Homo sapiens: one gene and its partners. The protein of the gene in region 3 interacts with the protein of the main gene of each other region in a pairwise test. Each region holds a gene or a part of one and is shown on either strand. Other genes may lie near its edges.

Region 1 (3,500 bases), on a different chromosome or scaffold from region 3:
ACATCTGGGGAAAGGCGGGGGCAAAACTGCTCTGGTTGAGAACTATTAGTCTTTAAAATTACCCTAGACAAGTCTTTTAATTTTTGATAATATAACTTTTGATTAAAACTAAGGGTGGAGGCTGAGGCGAGTGGATCACTTGAGCCCAGGAGTTCAACAGGGCAAAACCTTGTCTGTACAAAAAATACAAAAATTAGCTAGGCGCGGTGCTGCACTCCTATTACAGGGAGGCTGAGGCAGGAGAACTCCTTGAGCCTGGGAGGTGGAGGCTGCACTGAGCTGAGATTATGCCACTGCACTCCAACCTGGGCAGCGGAGGGAAAACTGTTGCAAAAAAAAAGAAAAGGTGCCTCATACCACATACAAAGATTAACTCAGAATGGATCAACACCCTAACTGTGAGAGTTAAAACTATCCTACTTTTTGTTTTGGTAGAGGAGGAGTCTTGCTACGTTGCCAGGGCTGGTCTTGAACTCCTGACTTCAAGTGATCCTCCGGTCTCGGCCTCTAAAACTATAAAACTCTTAAACTGTGGCTGGGCGCAGTAGCTCACATCTGTAATCCCAGCACTTTGGGAGGCCAAGGCAGGTGGATCACCTGAGGTCAGGAGTTTGAGGCCAGCCTGGCCAACATGGGGAAACCCTGTCTCTACGAAAAATGCAAAAATTAGTTGGGCACGGTGGCATGAGCCTGTAATCCCAGCTACTTGGGAGGCTGAGGCAGGAGAATCGCTTGAACCCAGGAGGCGGAGGTTGCAACAAGCTGAGATCATGCTACTGCACTCCAGCCTGGGCGACAGAGCAAGACTCCGTCTCGGGAAAAAAACAAACCAAACTGGTACTTTAAGACAGGGTCTTGATCTGGCTGAGATCCAGGCTGAGGCATCTCTAGTTTTGTCCCTTTCTTCATGCCTAGCAGTATTTGCTCATTCTCTCCTTTTCTCAATTAAGCTAAAAAACGGTTGCCAATTATTTAGTCTAGCAAAAACTTGTAGGTCCTTCTCTGCTATGGCCTTGTCAGTTTTCTTTTCTTTTTTTTTTTTTTGAGACAGAGTCTTGCTCTGTTGCTCAGGTGGAGTGCGGTGGCGCCATCTCGGCTCACTGCAACCTCCGCCTCCTGGGTTCAAGCGATTCTCCCGCCTCAGCCTCCCAAGTAGCTAGGATTACAGGCATGTGCCAACACACCCAGCTAATTTTTGTATTTTTAGTAGAGATGAGGTTTCACCATGTTGGCCAGGCTGATCTCAAACTCTTGATCTCAGGTGATTCGCCCTCCTCAGCCTCCCAAAGTGCTAGGATTACGGGCGTGAGCCACCGCACCTAGCCTTGTTGTCAGTTTTCATTTCTGCCTTTTTTTTCTTTCCTTCAGATAGGGTCTCGCTGTCGCCCAGACTGGAGTGCAGTAGTGCAATCATGGCTCACTGCAGCCTTGACCTCCTGGCTCAAGCGAGCCTCCCATCTCAGCTTCCCGAGCAGCTGGGACTATAGGTGTACGCCACCATGCCAGGTAATAAAAAAAAAGGTTTTTTTTGGTAGAGATGAGGTCTTGCCATGTTGCCCAGGTTAGTCTCAAACTACAGGGCTCAAACAATCCTGCCTCGGCCCCGCAAAATGCTGAGATTACAAGTGTGGGCCCCTATGCCTGGCCAAAAGCCAATACTTTGAAACATCATCTGATAAGGGACTTAACTTTGTATTTTTTCCTTTCCCTCACTTCTTGAATAAAAGGGATTTACCTCTTAAAACTCAGTAATAAAAACATAAGTGGCTCAATGGACAAGGGATCTCGACAGACACTTTCCCAAAGAAGATATCCAACGAGCACATAAAAAGACGCTCGTTCATGAGCCACCTGGGAACTGCAAATCAAAACCGCAACCAGATCCGCTTCCCACCCGCTGGAAGTCTAGGATCAACAAGACAGACAAGCAGCGCTGGCGAGGATGTGGAGAAACTGGAGCTCTCTTATAACTGCCAGTGGGAATGTGAAACACTGCAGCCACTCTGGAAGGCCACCTGGTAGCTAAAAGGTGAGCAGAGTTACTGTGACCAGCGACTCCACTCCTAGCTATGTATCCAGGAGAAATGGAAGAATACATCCACATAGAACTTACACCTGAACATTCGAGGCAGCACTACTCCTGACAGCTAAAAAGCAGAAACCAGCAAATCCATGAATGAATGGATAAGATGATGTGAAGCCAAGCTGCCACGGCAAGGACAGGAGCACCCACACCTGCTCCAGCATGGCCAGGACTCGGAAACACACCTCCCCGAGGGAGACGCCGGACACAGAAGGCCGTGCTGTGTGATTCCAGGGATCCTGCGTGAGGGTGACAGGCCCATCCCAGCTGAGCTGATATCCCCACATGGTGGCGGCCCACAACTATCCTGTCAGCGACAAACCCTACATGCCATTCGTGTCTGCTGTGTGCCTGGGTTTTCAGTTCTCTAAATTGAGATCTTATACCCACCTGGCTGTGTGTCCTTTAAAACAACTCAGCCATCAATTCCTACCAAATGCACTTTAATTTAAGGACCGTTCCACCTTCCAATCTTACGGACAAACCGTATTTATTTAACTGCAGCCTCCAATCTTACGGACAAACTGTATTTATTTAACTGCAGCCTCCAATCTTACGGACAAACCGTATTCAACTGCAGCCTCCAATCTTACGGACAAACCGTATTCAACTGCAGCCTCCAATCTTACGGACAAACCGTATTTATTTAACTGCAGCCTCCAATCTTACGGACAAACCGTATTTATTTAACTGCAGCCTCCAATCTTACGGACAAACCGTATTTATTTAACTGCAGCCTCCAATCTTACGGACAAGCCGTATTTATTTAACTGCAGCCTCCAATCTTACAGACAAACCGTATTCAAGTGCAGCCTCCAATCTTATGGACAAACCATGTTTAACTGCAGCCTCCAATCTTACAGACAAACCGTATTCAAGTGCAGCCTCCAATCTTATGGACAAACCGTATTCAACTGCAGCCTCCAGTCTTACGGACAAACCGTATTTAACTGCAGTCTGGTGTCTAAGGTTCAGGCTTCACATTTCATTATCAAGGGGTTCTGGGCCGGGCGCGGGGGCTCACGCGTGCAATCCCAGCACTTTGGGAGGCCGAGGCAGGTGGATCACTTGAGGTCAGAGTTTGAGACCAGCCTGGCCAACATGGTGAAACCCCGTTGCCACTAAAAGTACAAAAATTAGCTGGATGTGGTGGTACATGCTTGTAATCCCAGCTACTTGGGAGGCTGAGCAGGAGAATCTCTTGAACCTGGGAAGTGGAGGTTGCATTGAACCCAGATTGTGCCACTGCATTCCAGGCTGGGTGACAGAGCGAGACTATCTCAGAAAAAAAAAAGAAGGTCGTTTCAAGCAGTATTTCTGATGATCGAGTATCCAGTTGTTGACTCTACACTTGTATCTCATTAGCGCACTGCATTGTTCACCTCTCCTGCTCATTTTCCTGAGTCTACAGTTTCCA
Region 2 (3,500 bases), on a different chromosome or scaffold from region 3:
GGTTGTGAAACACAGCTGCATTTTGGTGAAATACAACAAGTCTCAGCTTGGCAACTGAGGGAGATCCTGGGCAGGTTATTTGATGTCCTCATCTTGTAAGTAAATAAGACTGTATGTCGTGTTTGGCTCAGTGCCATGTGTAGACGGTAAGTATTAAAGGACAGAAGGCAGGCTACCAACAGCACCTGTAGTCACCACAACCAAAAGCACCTGCTCACGCAAGCAAGGGATATGGCTTTCAAGCCTCAACTCACCATACATTTTTTTGTTTTTCCTAGAAACTGAGTCTCTGTCTGTCATTCAGGCTGGAGTGCAATAGCGTGATCATAGCTCACTGAACCTTGAAGTCTTGGGCTTAAGCAATCTTCCTACCTTAGCCTCCTGAGTAGCTGGGACTATAGATGCAAGCCATCATGCCTGGCTAATTAAAAAAACTGTTTTGGTAGAGATAGTGTCTTGCTATGTTGCCAAGGCTGGCCTCAAACTCCTGGCCTCAAGTGATCTTCTCCCGCTTCAGCCTCCCAAAGTGCTGGGATTACAGGTATGAGCTACTGTGCCCAGCCTCACCATGCAATTTTATATTTAATCTAATGTACATTTGAATTATAAATTCTTTTCTACATCAGGCAAATAACAATGAGACTTACATTTTGGCAAGTTATCTTGAAGAAGATGAGACACTCTTTCTGGTCTTTGCTTTTGCATGATGTCCTGGAAGTTCTTCAGCAGTCCACTGGGATCCCCTCCATCGGTTTTCACACTAACCACACTGGGGCCTGCTGAGGTTTCAGCAACCTCTGGAACAAAAGTAACAAGAAACAAATGGGACCAACTTTCTATTCTGAGTTCACAATATCTTCCAAACATATTGTCAAAAATGGCTTATGGCCTAGTTCACAAAAAAGGCCAAGCATAACCAAAGTTAGTTATAACTGAGTGTACAAAGCATCTCTTCTATTTTAGTTACTGTAATGGCAGACTCTTGGTGTTGTTTTCAGAGCTACTGGCCAGCTTTAATGAACAATAAAGTCCAAAGCTTTCTTGCTGGTTGGCATGTCTTATTCACTCCACTACATCCCCACCCCAATCCTAATCTCAATTTTCTGTTTTTTTTTTTTTGAGACAGAGTCCCATTCTGTCACCCAGGCTGGAGAGCAGTGGCACGATCTCGACTCATTGCAACCTCTGCCTCCTGGGTTCAAGCGATCCTCCCTCCTCAACCTCCTGAGAAGATGGGACTATAGGCATGCGCCATCATGCCCAGCTAATCTTTGTATTTTTGGTAGGGATGGGGTTTCCCCATGTTGGCCTGGCTGGTCTTAAACTCCTGGCCTCAAGTGATCCACCTGCCTCGGCCTCCCAAAGTGCTGGGATTATAGGTGTGAGCCACTGGGCCTGGTCCTAATCTCAATTTTCTTCATAGAAAACAATTTTGGCCATATGCATAATTTCTGCTGGTTAGGCTTTTGGGGAGCCTTGAGTTCTCTGCAGATATAGCCACACCTATATATTGTGGAGTTAAGGTTGCAATTCAATGACCATCAGTAAGACACACGGCTTGGGAGCCCTAGGACCAGCACTTACTGCAGTAAAACCATTATTTTCTATCTTTATCCTAGCAGATGATGGGAAAGACCAAAGGGACAAAAGGCAGCTGGTGGCAGCTCAAGACTGCAGGTTATTTTCAGAAATTAAGTAGTAACTATAAAAGCTGGTCACATCCCACACACGCACCAGAAAGAAAGTCCCACTTTCGCAATACAGTCCCTTGACTGTCTATCTTGAAGACCTTCCTCTCTGGCCCTAAAAGAGGAAGGTGTTTCCATAAATACTGCCCTAATAATAGCTCATACACAAATCTGAGGGCCCAAAAGAACTAAAAGGACCCCTTCACTACCACTAATGGTTCACAACTCATCTCTTACCTTTCCTCACGGCATTCATTTCCTGCACATCCTCCTGAAGCTCAAGACTGGCTTTGCAGAAGACACTGCTGCCTCTCTGATTCATCTGTGCTGCCAGGAAAGGGCATTTGCTTGCAGTGCCCTGGCTTGTGGCAGGCAAGGGGTGTCCAGACGGAAGCTGTGTGCCATCTGGACTCTGCTGGGATCCATCAGGAGTCTGTTGGACCTTGGCCTTAGCAGTTTTGTCTTCTGAGGGAGGAAATGGAAAAAGTGAAGCATCAGATCTGGTTGCACAGTATGTAAGAAAACCACTTATTTCTTTCTTTTATTGCCTCAAAGATAAACTTAATACTTACTGTACCCCACCATCCAGACACAAGTGTTTTTTTTGTTTTGTTTTGTTTTTAAGATGGAGTCTTGCTCTGTACCCCAGGTTGGAGTACAGTGGCACAATCTTGGCTCACTACAACCTCCACCTCCTGGGTTCAAGTGATTCTCATGCCTCAGCCTCCCAAGTAGCTGGGGTTACAGGTGTGTGCCACCATGCCTGGCTAATTTGTGTATTTTTAGTAGAGATGGGGTTTCACCATGTTGTCCAGGCTGGTCTTGAACTCCTGACCTCAGGTTATCCACCTGCCTTGGCCTCCCAAAGTGCTGGGATTATAGGCGTGAACCACTGCACTCAGCCACAAGCTTATTTTTATTAGGTTCTGCTAATCTCTCTAGTTTTTCATCTGCTTCACAGGAAACAATGCGTCTATGAAGAGTTAACTGGCACATTCCAGTTGCCTCTTAAACCCACAGTATTTCTCGTCATAAATCCAAAAAAAGTACCATTTTCTAGTTTTAGACAACCCGGAATCCTTGAGTTGGATCATTTCCAGTAATTTCTACCCCAACTACACTCAGCTTATTTTATGAGAGGACACACTCTGTAAGGTAACGGGAAATATTCACACACATTTTTTTCTCTGCTAACATTTTCCTTTCCTTTTTTTTTGAAACAGGATCTCACTCTGTCAACCAGGCTAGAGTGCATGGTGCAATCATAGCTAACTGCAGCTTTGACCTCCAGGCTCAAGTGATCCTCTCACCTTAGCTCTCCAAGTAGCTTGGACTGCAGGTGTTCTACTGCGCCCAGCTAATTCTTTTTATTTTTTATTTTTTGTAGAGACGGAGTCTTGTTATGTGGCCCTAGCTTCTATCAAACTCCTAGGCTCAAGCAGTCCTCCCGCCTCAGCCTCCCAAAGTGCTGGAATTACAGGCATGAGCCACCACATCCTGTCTCTGCTGACATTTTCTAAACAGATTCTTGACAAAGAGGCTTGCTGTTGCTTAACATAAAAGCTATTGGTTTTCATCTAAACAACAGAAATTAGACTAAGACTTAGGTCTTTAGATTGCTAATAAAGTAAGAAAAAATAGGGGTATATCACATTCACATACCTCATCTACTTTCTCATCTAAATTCATCAAAGTCTGCTGACTAAACACCGTTGGCTGGTAATTATCCTTCTAGCTACAGTGACTTCCCTCTCCCCTTGAGCAAATTCATTCACCTTCTTTCTAGAAAAGTCTTTCTTCATCATTCTGGAA
Region 3 (3,500 bases):
TTCTTACCATATAACGGCATCACCAGTGTACCTAAATGATGTTATATTGTACGTAAAACTAATTCCCAAGTGTGAAACATTTGGAAAACACAGCATCTCAGTTCAGAAAACAGAGGCCCAGTTTTAGCAAGTAAAGCCAAGAGGGACCCCAGCAGCCTGCAGGGCAGGACCCTCTGCCCTTTCTCCTCCCAGATGTCCCCACCTTGCTGTGTTGTTGTTCCAGGGTTGACTCAGCTGATGCCAATAGCAATTTAAAACAGAATTGGGCCAGGTGCAGTGGCTCATGCCTGTAATCCCAGCACTTTGGGAGGCCCAGGTAGGAGGATCGCTTGAGCCCAGGAGTTGGAGACCAGCCTGGGCAACACAGCCAGACCCCATCTTTTAAAAAAAATCAAAAAATCTGCCAGGTAGTGGGTGTGCCTGTAGTCCCAGCTACTCAGGAGGCTCAGGTGGGCAGGTCAATTGAGCCCATAAGTTCAAGGTTGCAGTGAGGTATGATCGCATCACTGTACTCCAGCCTGGGTAACAGTGCGAGACCCTGTCTCTAAAAATAAATAAATAAATAAATAAATAAATAAATAAACAAACAAACAAACAAACAAACAAACAATTGCATATAAGGATCGCCCGTTTTCAGGGCATGCTTTACACCGGCCTGGTTAACTTTACTCTGGGTGTGCTCCGTCCGCCGCAGCCCCCGCCGGGAGGTGGCCACAGCTCTCTCTGGTTGCGCCCTAGGTGTACCAAATCATCGTCATCCAGACTGGGAGCTTTGACAACAACAAGGCCGTCCTGGAACGGCGCTATTCCGACTTCGCGAAGCTCCAGAAAGCGCTGCTGAAGACGTTCAGGGAGGAGATCGAAGACGTGGAGTTTCCCAGGAAGCACCTGACTGGGAACTTCGCTGAGGAGATGATCTGTGAGCGTCGGCGCGCCCTGCAGGAGTACCTGGGCCTGCTCTACGCCATCCGCTGCGTGCGCCGCTCCCGGGAGTTCCTGGACTTCCTCACGCGGCCGGAGCTGCGCGAGGCTTTCGGCTGCCTGCGGGCCGGCCAGTACCCGCGCGCCCTGGAGCTGCTGCTGCGCGTGCTGCCGCTGCAGGAGAAGCTCACCGCCCACTGCCCTGCGGCCGCCGTCCCGGCCCTGTGCGCCGTGCTGCTGTGCCACCGCGACCTCGACCGCCCCGCCGAGGCCTTCGCGGCCGGAGAGAGGGCCCTGCAGCGCCTGCAGGCCCGGGAGGGCCATCGCTACTATGCGCCTCTGCTGGACGCCATGGTCCGCCTGGCCTACGCGCTGGGCAAGGACTTCGTGACTCTGCAGGAGAGGCTGGAGGAGAGCCAGCTCCGGAGGCCCACGCCCCGAGGCATCACCCTGAAGGAGCTCACTGTGCGAGAATACCTGCACTGAGCCGGCCTGGGACCCCGCAGGGACGCTGGAGATTTGGGGTCACCATGGCTCACAGTGGGCTGTTTGGGGTTCTTTTTTTTTATTTTTCCTTTTCTTTTTTGTTATTTGAGACAGTCTTGCTCTGTCACCCAGACTGAAGTGCAGTGGCTCAATTATGTCTCACTGCAGCCTCAAACTCCTGGGCACAAGCAATCCTCCCACCTCAGCCTCCCAAGTAGCTGGGATTACAGGTGCACACCACCACACCAGGCTAATTTTTAATTTTTTAGTAGAGACAGGGTCTCTCTGTTGCCCAGGCTGGTCTCTAACTTCTGACCTTAAATGATCTTCCTGCCTCAGCTTCCCAAAACACTGGGGTTACAAGTGTGAGCCACCACCCCTGGCCTGGGGTTCATTTTTAATGGGAAAAGCCACTGGGGGCTCTAACTCGCTGGGTGACTTTGGACAAGCCCCTCCTCTGGTCCTCAATTTCTCCATCTGTATTGGACAGAGGTGCTCCTGGGACCCCTTGGAAGCCTCTGCTTGTGTCCCACGTCCTCTTGATGCCAGGGCCACTTCATCTCCAAAACACAAAACCAACTGCCAAAACCGTCCAGAGCAGTGTCCACCCCACCAGTGTCTTTGTGGGAAGCTGGAGAAGAAGTTTACCTCACACATTCTAGACAAAACTTAGTCCATTTCCTTGAAGACAGTTCTCTCCAGCTGCTCCAAGGCTTTTCTCTCTGTTCCTTCCACCTTGGAATTGCTTTAAAATATTTCCATCCATTATCCTAATACTATCTTAGTATTCTAGCCCTTCCCCCTTACCATGTAGACCTGACAAAGCAAAACAAAAGCTCACCTATTGCCCTCAAGAACAGCCTCTACACACACACACACACACACACACACACACACACACACACACACGGTGGGAGTTGTATGCCATCCTTTTGAAGGGTGGGAGGACCCTGGACCAGAAAGCAATAATGGCATAAGATTCTGTGATACCAGGCATTTTTGGCAAGGGAAGTTGCCAACAATTTTTCTGGCTGGGATGGCATAGCACATTGTCTAGGGGTGGATTTTCATTCATAAGGCAGCTGTTCCCTGAATGGCTTCCCTGGGTTATGTAGAAACAGCCTGGGGAGGAGGTGATACAACATACTTAATGGGGCCTCTGGGCAGAAAACAGACTGAATCCTCAACACTGCCCCTTTTGAGGGTCTGTGATCCTGGAACTTCTCTGATGGACTGGGATGCCCTTAACTGAGGTCTGCTGTCTGGAAAGGACACCACAGGCCCAGAATGAAGGGGCATCTGGACCAATGACCTAGATTCAACACAGGGCTTGGAGCTGGTGGTACAGGCTGGTTTTGGCCCAATGTGTGTTGGAGGCTGGAAGCCCCTGAAGACCTAAACTGCCTGGATGAGCTTATTAGGGTGAATTAATGAGTCTGTAATTTGGGAACCTTAATGTGAGACACCACTTAAGGAGAGGAACTTGGCCCAGCAAGTGATCACTCTAGAAGTGGACAGCTATGCACTAGACTGCACCAGAATCTGTTCAACAGCGACACCTTGTGGTAAAAACTGTAGACGCCCCATCAGGCTGGATGGGAAACTAGAAACAGACTGTCTCATCTTTGGACAGATATCCCTCAAATCTCCCAATCTACTCCAGGGAAAAGACACTTCAAGTGAGAGATATTGGACTTCTTGAAAATCTAGGCCTATGGAAAATTAAAGTGTTAAATGGAAAAATTAAAGAGCTATGAGTCTATTTGTAATGATGAAACAGATGATATTGATTTTGTCAGTTATTTCTTCAAATCTAAAATGCTATCAACAATATGCAACAAATGTTTACTAACAAAGAAAAAATACCCAACATGGACAGTTTAATGGGATATTCCAGCACAAAAGCTGGAAAAGCAAAGAGTTAGACCCCCGATATGAGGGTTAACACCAAATAAGCCTGTTGTACAGGAGGGGACATTAAGGAAATTTGCACAAACTAAACTTGGCACTGGGTGGAGTACAGGGAACTTCCTCTGAGAATTTGAACTGCAAGCGGGCACTCGCCCATGTTTTAGGGCTGAATACACACAGCA
Region 4 (3,500 bases), on a different chromosome or scaffold from region 3:
CACAAACTATGCACAAGTTTGCTTCCATGTTGTATAGCAAGAGTTTAAATATTTCTGAGTTAATGATGCCAAACTGTGCTCCGATTATATCAGCATATTTACATGATCCTTGAACACCACATATAGATTCCTATACTACACATTTAAGCAAAATCACCTCCTGACTTCACAATGAAAGAGACCTATTGGATTAAAAAGTGGTTTCTAGTAAACCCCAAAGAGATACTGTTACTAAATTACTAAATTTAAAGGCAAAATAGTATTCACTAAACTGATTTTTCTGTCTTATTTTCCTTATTTGGCATAATCATTAACCAACTTCTAGTAAATGGAAGCATTCTCACAATTTAAGTTTTTTTAGGGGGAAACACACAATTTATAAATACTGTCAAGTGAAGAACAGATTCCTGAATACTAAAAGACCCATGCATATCCTTGTATGTAAAAAAAAAAAAAATCCATCATAAAATCATAGACTCAAACACCATCTTTGATTCAGTAGTTCTCCCTCTACTGTGGCTTCTGCTATAGAGTCATTGTTAAAAAGAGTTCTTCATGAAAGATTCTCACATAGCAAAATGCTTTAAGAAAATGTCTAACAAACATTTTTATTGTCTCAATTTGTACACAAACTGACACCTGAAAATCAGAGAGGATAAAGAACTTCAATCTTTAAAAAAGAGAGGTAAGTTATTCCAAAATGCTACCAGTCAATAATTAAAAATACAGTTTGGGGGCAAGAAGTTCTGAAATAACTCAGAGAACTTGCTCAAGATTTTACTTTTGGACCAGTCCTCTTTGGGAGGGAGTATGTGAATAGGTAATGAAAGCCTTATATGAGAGAGTCAATGGAGAGCCATATCAAGGAGCACCTGAAGATATATGGATCAATACAGGGAAAAGAAATCCAAGTAGCCCAGTGCCTGACACTCACTGGGCACTCAATTAATGCACGGTGAATTAACAAATGAATTAATGAAAGAACCATTTGCTACATATAACATTCTTACTTTAAGAAAAAAGAATTTGAAACAGAAGAAAACATACACGCAAGAACACATACAAACTATAAACTATATGATATCCTAAAGGAGATGTAAATATTAAACTGTTTGCTTTGCTGACTGACACTATTAATACCTAAAAGCAGTATGAGAGATCACAAAGAATAAGTACTCATTCATACTTGGAGTGGGCTGCTCATCTTATGGTCTAACTTGCATTTTATGTCATGGCCATGTTGCTTAATCTCCAGCTGTTCTACAGAAGAGCAAAATAAGTTATAAATAAATTATTAAAGAAAAAAAGTAACTCTATCCATGCTGAGGCCTGAGGGAGTTGGGGGAGGAGTCAATTCCTTTTAGTTTATATTTAAAAAGAGAAACTCTTTGGAAAACTGTAATATCTGAAGATTTTGTGGTTTCCAAAAGTGAAGGTGAACGGTGAGAAGTTTTCTTAGTTTAGCTACTGAACCCTAAAAAAATATAACCTCAAAAGTTAATTTCTTAAGCAATTTGGGCACCTGAATTTGATAAGAACTTTTTTTTCCAGACATTCTGTTCTGTCTAACCCAAAGGAAAAATAGCCAATTTTGAGAATCTGTATACAAATAAGGAAAAGTAAAATACAGCGCTTTGCAAAGAAATGGGAGGGATTTCTGATACTCAATTCATGATGCTAAACACTTCAAGTAGATGATTCAAAGGCAGAAATATATAACTGTTCTCATTAGGATTGTTTATGGACTATAAATAAGGAGCAGACTTATGGCCAATGCATTAGAAAAAAACAAGTACAAAGGCACTTCAGAAAATACCTTACTCCAACCTCCCATTTTAGTGTCATTTCTAAAAGGGTTTCATTTCAGCCTTCCTACCTTTCTTCCTTCCTTCCCTTCCTTCCCTCCAACGGGGTCTCACTCTGTCACCCAGGCTGAAGAGCAGTGGGACAATCACGGCTCACTGCAGCCCCAACCTCCTGGGCTCAAACGATCCTACTGCCTCAGCCTCCCAAGTAGCTGGGACTACAAGTGCCTGTCACCAGGCTTGGATAATTTTTTTTGTCTTTTGTAAAGATGGGGTCTTGCTATGTTGTCCAGACTCGTAATGATCTCCTGGGCTCAAGTGATCCTCCCACCTCAGCCTCCCAGAGTGCTGGGATTACAGGCATGAGCCACCACACCAGACCTCTTTTTTCTTTATTATATATTCCTCTAATAAAGTGCTCTGTATGCAGTGAGCATTCAATATTTGCTAAATTAAATTAATGGAAAGTTTTCTAACTACCATGTAGAGTATCTAAATTTACATCATTGGTTCTAGAACTGCTGTCTGAAGCAACACAAATTACACTTATGACAGTTCGTCAAATCTTTGAAGCCCATCCTCAAAATAAGGATGTCAAAAATACATCACACATGTTGACACTCTAATCTCCCAGCCACAGTAGGCATTAGCAATCTGAATGTTATTTTTACTAATCCTTCACAGTTTTAGAATTCTTCTCAACCCAACATTCAAAAACCACTTGCCATTCCAGCCTAAGTTTTCTTGTCCCTAAGTCATGCATTCCAAGTCCCCTCAACCATTGCTCACATGCAATGCTTTCAAATTCCCTATGCATCCTGGTCACAGTGATTTGAATGTACACTAATTTATCGATGATGTACCTAAAACAACTTATTTCATTTCCTTGAACTGATGATAATATTCTAGATACAGTCTATTTAAAAAGTGAAGAATTATTAGCTTCTCCATTTCAGTATTATATTTCTAGCAGTGCAGCCCAAAATTTCAGTAGCTATGATAACAGCCTCTTGTCACACCACTGGCTTATACTGAACTTGCAGTTAATTTAAAACATTCAAGCTTCCTTTCTACAATCTGCTGATAAGTCATCCCCTAAAACCGTGCCCGCAACTCTCTATTCTCTCCTAAATTGATTTTTTTGTACTTAATCATAGTATTTTACATTTAAGTAAATGTAAATGATCCAGATTCTATCATTCAACAGAATGTCTGCAATATCTGCTGGCTTTATGTTTCATATGATAAGCATATCGTCTGTGCCTTCAGACACATTATCAGCCAACATGTCGGTGCTGGATGTATTTTCCCAATGTTGCATAAGAGGAATACCTTCGAGAGTTTGGCCTAGGAATGTGGCCTGGGACTCCGCCAAGCATCTCTCTCCAGCAAAATGACTGCAAATTTCTCGACCTTCAGATTCTACATGATGTAAAAGAAGTTTGTCTGTGTTTAAAAACACATTCAAGAAATAAGTGAACATGTGAAAAGACAGAAAAACTTGTTTTAATTTGGGCATAGTTTCAGTTTTCAAAGGCACATGAAGGCAGAAAGAAAGAATCACAAAATGGAACTACTGATGATAGCAACTCCAAAACCAAGACTGATTAGACTAAATCCCATGTGGCAAAAATTTTATTTAGTAAGTTTCCTTCTCCCTCTCTCCCTTTAGATATATGTGCATACACACACACG
Region 5 (3,500 bases), on a different chromosome or scaffold from region 3:
TCCTGCCTCAGCCTCCCGAGTGGCTGGGATTATAGGCGCACGCCACCATGCCCAGCTAATTTTTGTATTTTTAGTAGAGATGGGGTTTCACCATGTTGGCCAGGCTGGTCTTGAACTCCTGGCCTCAATGATTCACCGGCCTTGGCCTCCTAAAGTGCTGGGATTACAGGCATGAGCCACCGCACCTGGCCCCCTACTTCTCTTATTGTTCCCACAGTCCCTGGGCGTGAAAGAATGCCCCAAGCCCACATGATTTCTTCTCACAGCACAGCAACTTACCTATCACCTTCACCCTCAGAACCTCACTTAACATTTTGGCATGGGAATGGCAATTATCTGCAACACACTGGTATTCGACGTCTTCAGTGGGGTTGTCTTTGAATACCGCAGGATCATTTGAGTTCTTGGTACTATTCTCCAAAACTTTACTTGTTTTTAAAAGTTGGTAAGAAATAGGCAAAGTTCCACTGATCGATTCGCAACGGACTTCGATGGTCTGTCCTTTTATGACCTCAAACTGGGCATCATAAGAAATCCTGGGCTGGGAGAGCATTTCTAGAACAGAGGGAGAAACAATCCAAAAGGCACTGAAGGTAAAAGCAAAGCATCCAGCACAAGAGGTTCCTCCTCCAAAGCCTGAGCTTTGCTTTCTATCCCTGCTGTAATTTCAAATGCCTGCCTGCCTTATTTACCTTTATAGGACACCTATGAGACTGACAGGCTGTGTGTGTGTGTGTGTGTGTGTGTGTGTGTGTGTGGTGAGAAGGGAAAGGGAAAGAGAAGTACAATAAGCAAAACAGAGAATGACAGAAATTCAAGGAAAACATTACATCCCCAGAAATACATGTTCATATTTTACCATATCTCACACGCACATGCACACATAATATACTTTTCTTGTGTTGAGCAAAGACACAGAAAACATAGAAAAAGTACAACAAGTAGCCAACAAAATGTGTGTGTGTGTGTGTGTGTGTGTGTGTGTATTTGAGACAGGGTCTCACTCTATTACCCAGGCTGGAGTGCACTGGTGCGATGACAGCTCACTACAACCTCCCAGAATCAAGCAATCCTCCTACCTCAGCCTCCCGAGTAGCTGGGACTATAGGTGCACACCACACCTGGCTAATTCTTTATTTTTTGTAGAGACAGGGTCTCACTATGTGCTCAGGCTGGTCTTGAACTCCTGGACTCAAGTGATCCTCCCACATCAGCTGCCCAAAGTGCTGGGATTATAAGTATGAGCCACCACACCTGGCTGAGCATATATGTGTGTGTGTGTGTGTGTGTGTGTGTGTGTTCTGAGACCGAGTCTTGCTCTGTCACCCAGGCTGGAGTGCAATGGCGCAATCTCAGCTGACCACAACCTCCACCTCCTGGGTCCAAGGGATTCTCCTGCCTCAGCCTCCCGAGTAGCTGGGATTACAGGCATGTGCCACCACACCCGGCTAACTTTTGTATTTTTAGTAGAGAGGGGGTTTCACCATGTTGGCCAGGCTGGCCTCAAACTCCTGACCTCAGGTGATCCACCCACCTTGGCCTGCCAAATTGTTGGGATTACAGGTGTGAGCCACCAGGTCCAGCCAATATATATGTTTTTAAATTATTCTCAGCCAGTCACGGTGGCTCATGCCTGTAATCCCAGCACTTTGGGAGGCCGAGGTGGGCAGATCACCTGAGGTCAGGACTTTAAGACCAGCCTGACCAATGTAGAGAAACCCCGTCTCTACTGAAAATACAAAATTAGCTGGGCAAGGTGGCACATGCCTGTAATCCTAGCTACTCGGGAGGCTGAGGCAGGAGAATCGCTTGAACCCGGGAGGCAGAGGTTGCAGTGAGCCGAGATCATGTCATTGCACTCCAGCCTGGGTAACAAGAGCAAAACTCCATCTCAAAAAAAAAAAAAAAAAAAAAAGATAAAAAAAGTCTTCTTAGTGCTTCAGCCTCTTAACAGATAAGAATTATATTAGGTCATTATTTAGGCATTAGTTTATTTAAACCTTATACAATGAGATTTCCTCCTCCCAAGAACAAAAAATAAAATAAAACGTTATAACACACATTTGTCTCTTGCATTCCTGCCTTTTGAGTTAGGTGGTTAGAGCATTAAAAATAGGCTAAAATCCTGGTTCAGTTGAAGCTATAATAAAATCTTAGCTGGATAAAACACAGCCACAGGTTAAATGAAAGGATCGTGACTGAATAATATAGTGACAGTGACAACTTGACTGGAGTTCTATAATCAACCAGAATCTCGCCACCCAAAGTGTGGTCCAGAGACCAACAGCATCCACATCACCAAAATGCTAGTTAGAGATGCAGAACCTGGCCCCATCTGGGCCTAAAATACTGAATCATAACCTGTATTTTAACCAGGTCTTGCATGCACATTCAGGCCTGAGAAGCCCAGCTCCTGGTGGTCAAATACCTACATTCTGTCCACTGGAAGTCTTACCCTTTTGGGTTAGCCAGGATACAGATTTAAAAAATGGAATTTTGATATTCTTGGCCGGGTGTGGTGGCTCAGGCCTGTAATCCCAGGACTTTGGGAGGCTGAGGCAGGCAGATCACGAGGTCAGGAGATGGAGACCATCCTGGCTAACACGGTGAAACCCCATCTCTACTAAAAATACAAAAAAATATTATCCGGGCGTGGTTGCGGGTGCCTGTAGTCCCAGCTACTTGGGAGGCTGAGGCAGGAGAATGGCGTGAACCCAGGAGGCGGAGCTTGCAGTGAGCCCAGATTGTGCCACTGCACTCCAGCCTGGGTGACAGAGCGAGACTGCATCTCAAAAAAATAAATAAATAAATAAATAAAAGTAATAAAAATAAAAATACAAAAATTAGGCAGACATGGTGGTGGGCACCTGTAATCCCAGCTACTTGGGAGGCTGAGGCAGGAGATCACTTGAACCTAGGAGGCAGAGGTTGCAGTGAGCTATCGTGCCACTGCACTCTAGCCTGGGCGACACGTCTCAAAAAAAAAAAAAAGAAAAGTTTAACATTGACTAAGTAGTGTTTCCTTCCTGAACTTTTGGGTGGGTACTTGCTCCAGGAGGCAGAATCTTGCCAGAATCTTAGCAAGTCAGAGGCCACATCATCATCAGTGAATCAGTGTTCTGAGCAGGAATACCTCCTTGTTTCTTTGGCCTTTGATTTCGCACTTCTCTCCCTCTAGTTCTTACCCTGCCTGAGTCTGCTCAGACCGGAGAGGGCGGCAGCTGCAGATAAATTTCCTTTCTCCCATTCAACCCTGGATGTCCTCTGAGTCAGCAACAATATACTCACCACATACGACTATCTGGACTGTGTTGCTTTTCTTGACCACTTTGTCAATACCTGCAGTGCAGATATACGTCCCACTGTCCGACTTTGAGGCTATCTTGGTGAAATCTTGAGTCTGTGACACAATCGTATCTTCCTTCTGGATGGTGAAGTTGGCTGGAGGTGCTCCTGGGATGGAGCAGGACAGGTTCAGTCTTTCACCTTGGTCCAGATGT
Region 6 (3,500 bases), on a different chromosome or scaffold from region 3:
GATGGGCAGATAAGCTTAGCCTCCATCCTAGTCCTCCATAATGTATTTTTTGGCTGTGGCTGTCACTGTTCTTTTTCATTTGAATTTGTTTTCTAACTTTCAGATCTGTATAAATCTCTCATCAAGTGATGAGCCTACCCTCACCTTTTCCTGGTGTGGACTTATTCCTTTTTTGTACTCTTAATCTTTAATGTAATTTGGGGAGGGATGGGAAGCCAACATGTGTACATTCTGCCGTCAGGAACTGGAAACTACATTGTCTCTTGATTTCGCATCATAACGAGTGAAGTGGATACTATTAATGTCCTCTTTTTACAGCTGTGATAACTGAGCAGCTGGGACTCAAACCCAAGTCTGTTACCACTAAGACATGTGCTGTTTTTATTGTCGGCTAGGAAGAGGTGTTAAGTACACAGGTGTTAAATTCGCCAATTCAGGATGTCATCTGAAACAATTACTTCATTTTTAAAAAGAGATTGAAGGTTTTATGTGCTAGGAAAGCTTTCAGAATTGGTCAGGAATTTAAGATATTGATCAGCCTCTGCCTAAGGCCTTTTCTTAGTTACTGGATCATTTTGAGCAATGATTTTCAAACTTTATTTTTTTAGTCAAGTCTTCCTTTAAATTAAATCTGTGCAGAAATCCAGTATGTTTACAGATAGAATAGGTGATGCTGCTCTGGTTGAAGTTAGATGGGATGCTCACAGTTCACTCCTTAGCTCTCCTTGGTGGCCCCTAAGACTTCTCCTTTGAGCAGTTTTAAAAACCTTTCATCTAAAATAAATAAATAAATAATTTTAAAAAACAAATAGGAAAAGAAAAGAAAACCTTTGATCTAAGGTTGCAAACCGTTTGTCCAGTGGCTGGAAAACATTTTAAGTAGTTTAAGAATAGGTTGGTACCAAAATAAGATTAAATGTAAATTATTTTAAAATTACTTGGGTAGGTGAAATGTTTACTCTTGTTCTCCATTTCCTACTTGCAGATTATTGCGCTATTTGAGCTCCTTCATAGTGCTGGTTTCTAAATAAGGAAATAAGCAAAAAATCAACATGCTAACTTCTTAATCTATTGAATGGGTAATTAAATTAGTCCAAAATTGCTAAAACATGTGTAGTGAAAAGTCTGCCTCCCATGCTGCCCCCCTTTCTCCACTATCTCTCCCGTGCATAGAGGACCCCAGAGATAACCACTATTATTAGTTTCTTATGTACTCTTCTAGACACAAGAAAATTTGAATATATACTATCTCCCTATCCTTTTACACAATAGGTAAGTTGACTCTATTTAATAGAAATTGAATAAAAGGAGTATTTAGAAATATATGCAAAATCAGTAAAACATTCAGTTTTATATAAATATGTGACTTTTTCATTTCTTTTAACAGGAAAAAATTAAAGAGTACATCTAAATATATTTATCAAACATTATTTTTGAATGGTGAAAACAGTGACATTAAGATTTGTGCTCTAGGAGAAGAATGGAGCTTACACAAAATATATTTATGTCAAGTAAGTATTTTTTCTATTTGAGTAACAGGGTAGTCACTGAAACTCTTAAGTCATGTTCTTCCTCATTGCACTTCACAGTAATCTTTTGCATGAACACCATAGTGGTTAAATCCTCTCATTTGATCAGTCTGTAAGAAAAATGGCAAACATTGTTAGTGAAAACTAAGTTTGGTCTAGAAAGAGATTTTGATATTTCAGTATCAGACTAGCCTAATACTACGTATTTGTCATTACTTCATAAAATGCTTTTTTCGGTGCCTTCTGTTGATAAAAGGGGAAAAGTTGGGGAAAAAATATTTAACATTAAAGTTAAGATTGTAGTGTTTATTTTGCTTATGGTTATTTAAATTGGATAAACTCATCTGAAATGTTGCTTTGTAGTTCACATTGAGTGTGAATAGAAAGTTCTCTCCTGAAAAATGCAGGTAAAGACAACACCAAAAAGTATATAGACTAAGTAGATTTCTGTACTGAAAATATTACTACCTGCCACCCCACTTTAAAAATTCAGAACTTTCATAGCTGACGTGGTGTTGGGCACCTGTAATCCCAGCTACTCAGGAGGCTGAGGCAGGAGAATTGCTTGAACCTGGGAGATGGAGGTTGCAGTGAGCTGAGATCGTACCACTGCATTCCAGCCTGGGCAACAGAGCGAGACTCTGTCTCAAAAAAAAAAAAAAAAAAAAAAAAAAAATCGGAGCTTTCAAAATAGAATACAATGTTGCTCTAATGGCCCAAATATTTTATTCATTTTCTTTCATCAAATCTATAAGCTAGGTATTGTTTGAGGCACTAGAAATAAAACAACAGTTTTTATCCTTTGGAACTTACATTTTTCCTCTTTACCATTTGAGAATAATTACTGGTAAGACAGCATAGTATAAAATTTTTCAGTAAAAGTATTTGAAAATGAATTGCCTTCTCTAACATTTTAATCATGTTTTAAAATGTGTTTTTGAAACAAATTTATTTTGGCTTGAAGTATGTTGCCCAGATACTATATCAGAATATTGCTTTTAACTTCAGGGTATGATTCATGTTGTTTCTTTTTAATATCTGAAAGCAGTTTTGTGAACTTGAGGGTAAGAATACCTCTGTTAAAACTTTACCCCTCGTGGAAGATGTATTATAATTCAAGCCACATGCTAAAATATAAGCCCCCTGAGGACAGAAACAATATCGATTTTGTTTATTGCTATATTCACAGTGCCTTCTACATACTAAGTACTCAGTAACATTTTTAAATAAATTAGTTAATATTTGATCCATTTCAAAGTAATTCTAATTATGAGGAGTGCTATCTGGCAGATACCTAAAGACTTCATTCTGTACCTTTCCAAGAATTCAGGTCCATTCTGGACATTTCTCATTAAACTAAATTTTGGATTTTCCCTGGTTTCTTTGGCGATCATCCTGTTTTTGCTGACTTGGGACTGGTTTGGTCCTTTATAGCCATTCAGGTGTACAGTAAAGATTCAACAGTTTGAGTAAAAAGCTAACCAGGTTCAAATAATATACATGAATTCAATTTAGATAGTAATATAAGAATTTTAGTTTTTTGTCAAAAATAGTACTAAACCAAAAGTATATTTTGATACACCTAATAGTGTCCTTATCTTAATTTCTTTTCTCCTGTGGACATATTTGGCAGTTCTTTTTCTGTTGAAGTAATAGAATGGATGAGTTTAGTTAATGGATAGAATAGTTGCTTAGAATTAGAAATGGGCAAATAATTTGGAAGACACAGAAAGTACTTGATAATCGTTGACTTTTTTTTTTGTTTAAGTCTGGCTACTTTTCTAGTATGTTCAGTGGTTCTTGGAAAGAATCCAGCATGAATATTATTGAACTGGAGATTCCTGACCAGAACATTGATGTAGAAGGTAACTACCACAATAATTACTATTATGCAACAATCGTAAAAACATAATCTTATTCTTCTGGTAGAAGATAAATAATTCCTTCCAGCCTTGTAGTCTAGAAAACTCC

Evidence for each region.
Region 1: the proteins of SNX20 (region 3) and TACC3 interact in binary tests that used the Homo sapiens proteins (3 or more experiments, as listed by UniProt).
Region 2: the proteins of SNX20 (region 3) and ALAS1 interact in a two-hybrid assay, tested with the Homo sapiens proteins (one large-scale study listed by BioGRID and IntAct).
Region 4: the proteins of SNX20 (region 3) and BDNF interact in binary tests that used the Homo sapiens proteins (3 or more experiments, as listed by UniProt).
Region 5: the proteins of SNX20 (region 3) and PECAM1 interact in binary tests that used the Homo sapiens proteins (3 or more experiments, as listed by UniProt).
Region 6: the proteins of SNX20 (region 3) and GMCL1 interact in a two-hybrid assay, tested with the Homo sapiens proteins (one large-scale study listed by BioGRID).

What each region holds. Positions count from the first base shown.
Region 1 is NC_000004.12:1,731,521-1,735,020, reverse strand, and holds part of TACC3 (transforming acidic coiled-coil-containing protein 3), read right to left. Parts: intron 1-3,500. UniProt on the Homo sapiens protein: Plays a role in the microtubule-dependent coupling of the nucleus and the centrosome. Involved in the processes that regulate centrosome-mediated interkinetic nuclear migration (INM) of neural progenitors.
Region 2 is NC_000003.12:52,201,160-52,204,659, reverse strand, and holds part of ALAS1 (5-aminolevulinate synthase, non-specific, mitochondrial isoform 1 precursor), read right to left. Parts: intron 2,154-3,500; coding exon 1,926-2,153; intron 798-1,925; coding exon 648-797; intron 1-647.
Region 3 is NC_000016.10:50,671,313-50,674,812, reverse strand, and holds the end of SNX20 (sorting nexin-20), read left to right. Parts: intron 1-738; coding exon 739-1,407; 3' UTR 1,408-3,184; downstream 3,185-3,500.
Region 4 is NC_000011.10:27,690,456-27,693,955, forward strand, and holds part of BDNF (neurotrophic factor BDNF precursor form isoform a preproprotein), read right to left. Parts: intron 686-3,500; exon of another isoform or gene 651-685; intron 1-650. UniProt on the Homo sapiens protein: Important signaling molecule that activates signaling cascades downstream of NTRK2. During development, promotes the survival and differentiation of selected neuronal populations of the peripheral and central nervous systems.
Region 5 is NC_000017.11:64,359,861-64,363,360, forward strand, and holds part of PECAM1 (platelet endothelial cell adhesion molecule precursor), read right to left. Parts: coding exon 3,289-3,500; intron 556-3,288; coding exon 280-555; intron 1-279. UniProt on the Homo sapiens protein: Cell adhesion molecule which is required for leukocyte transendothelial migration (TEM) under most inflammatory conditions.
Region 6 is NC_000002.12:69,836,160-69,839,659, forward strand, and holds part of GMCL1 (germ cell-less protein-like 1), read left to right. Parts: intron 1-1,387; coding exon 1,388-1,511; intron 1,512-3,297; coding exon 3,298-3,394; intron 3,395-3,500. UniProt on the Homo sapiens protein: Possible function in spermatogenesis. Enhances the degradation of MDM2 and increases the amount of p53 probably by modulating the nucleocytoplasmic transport.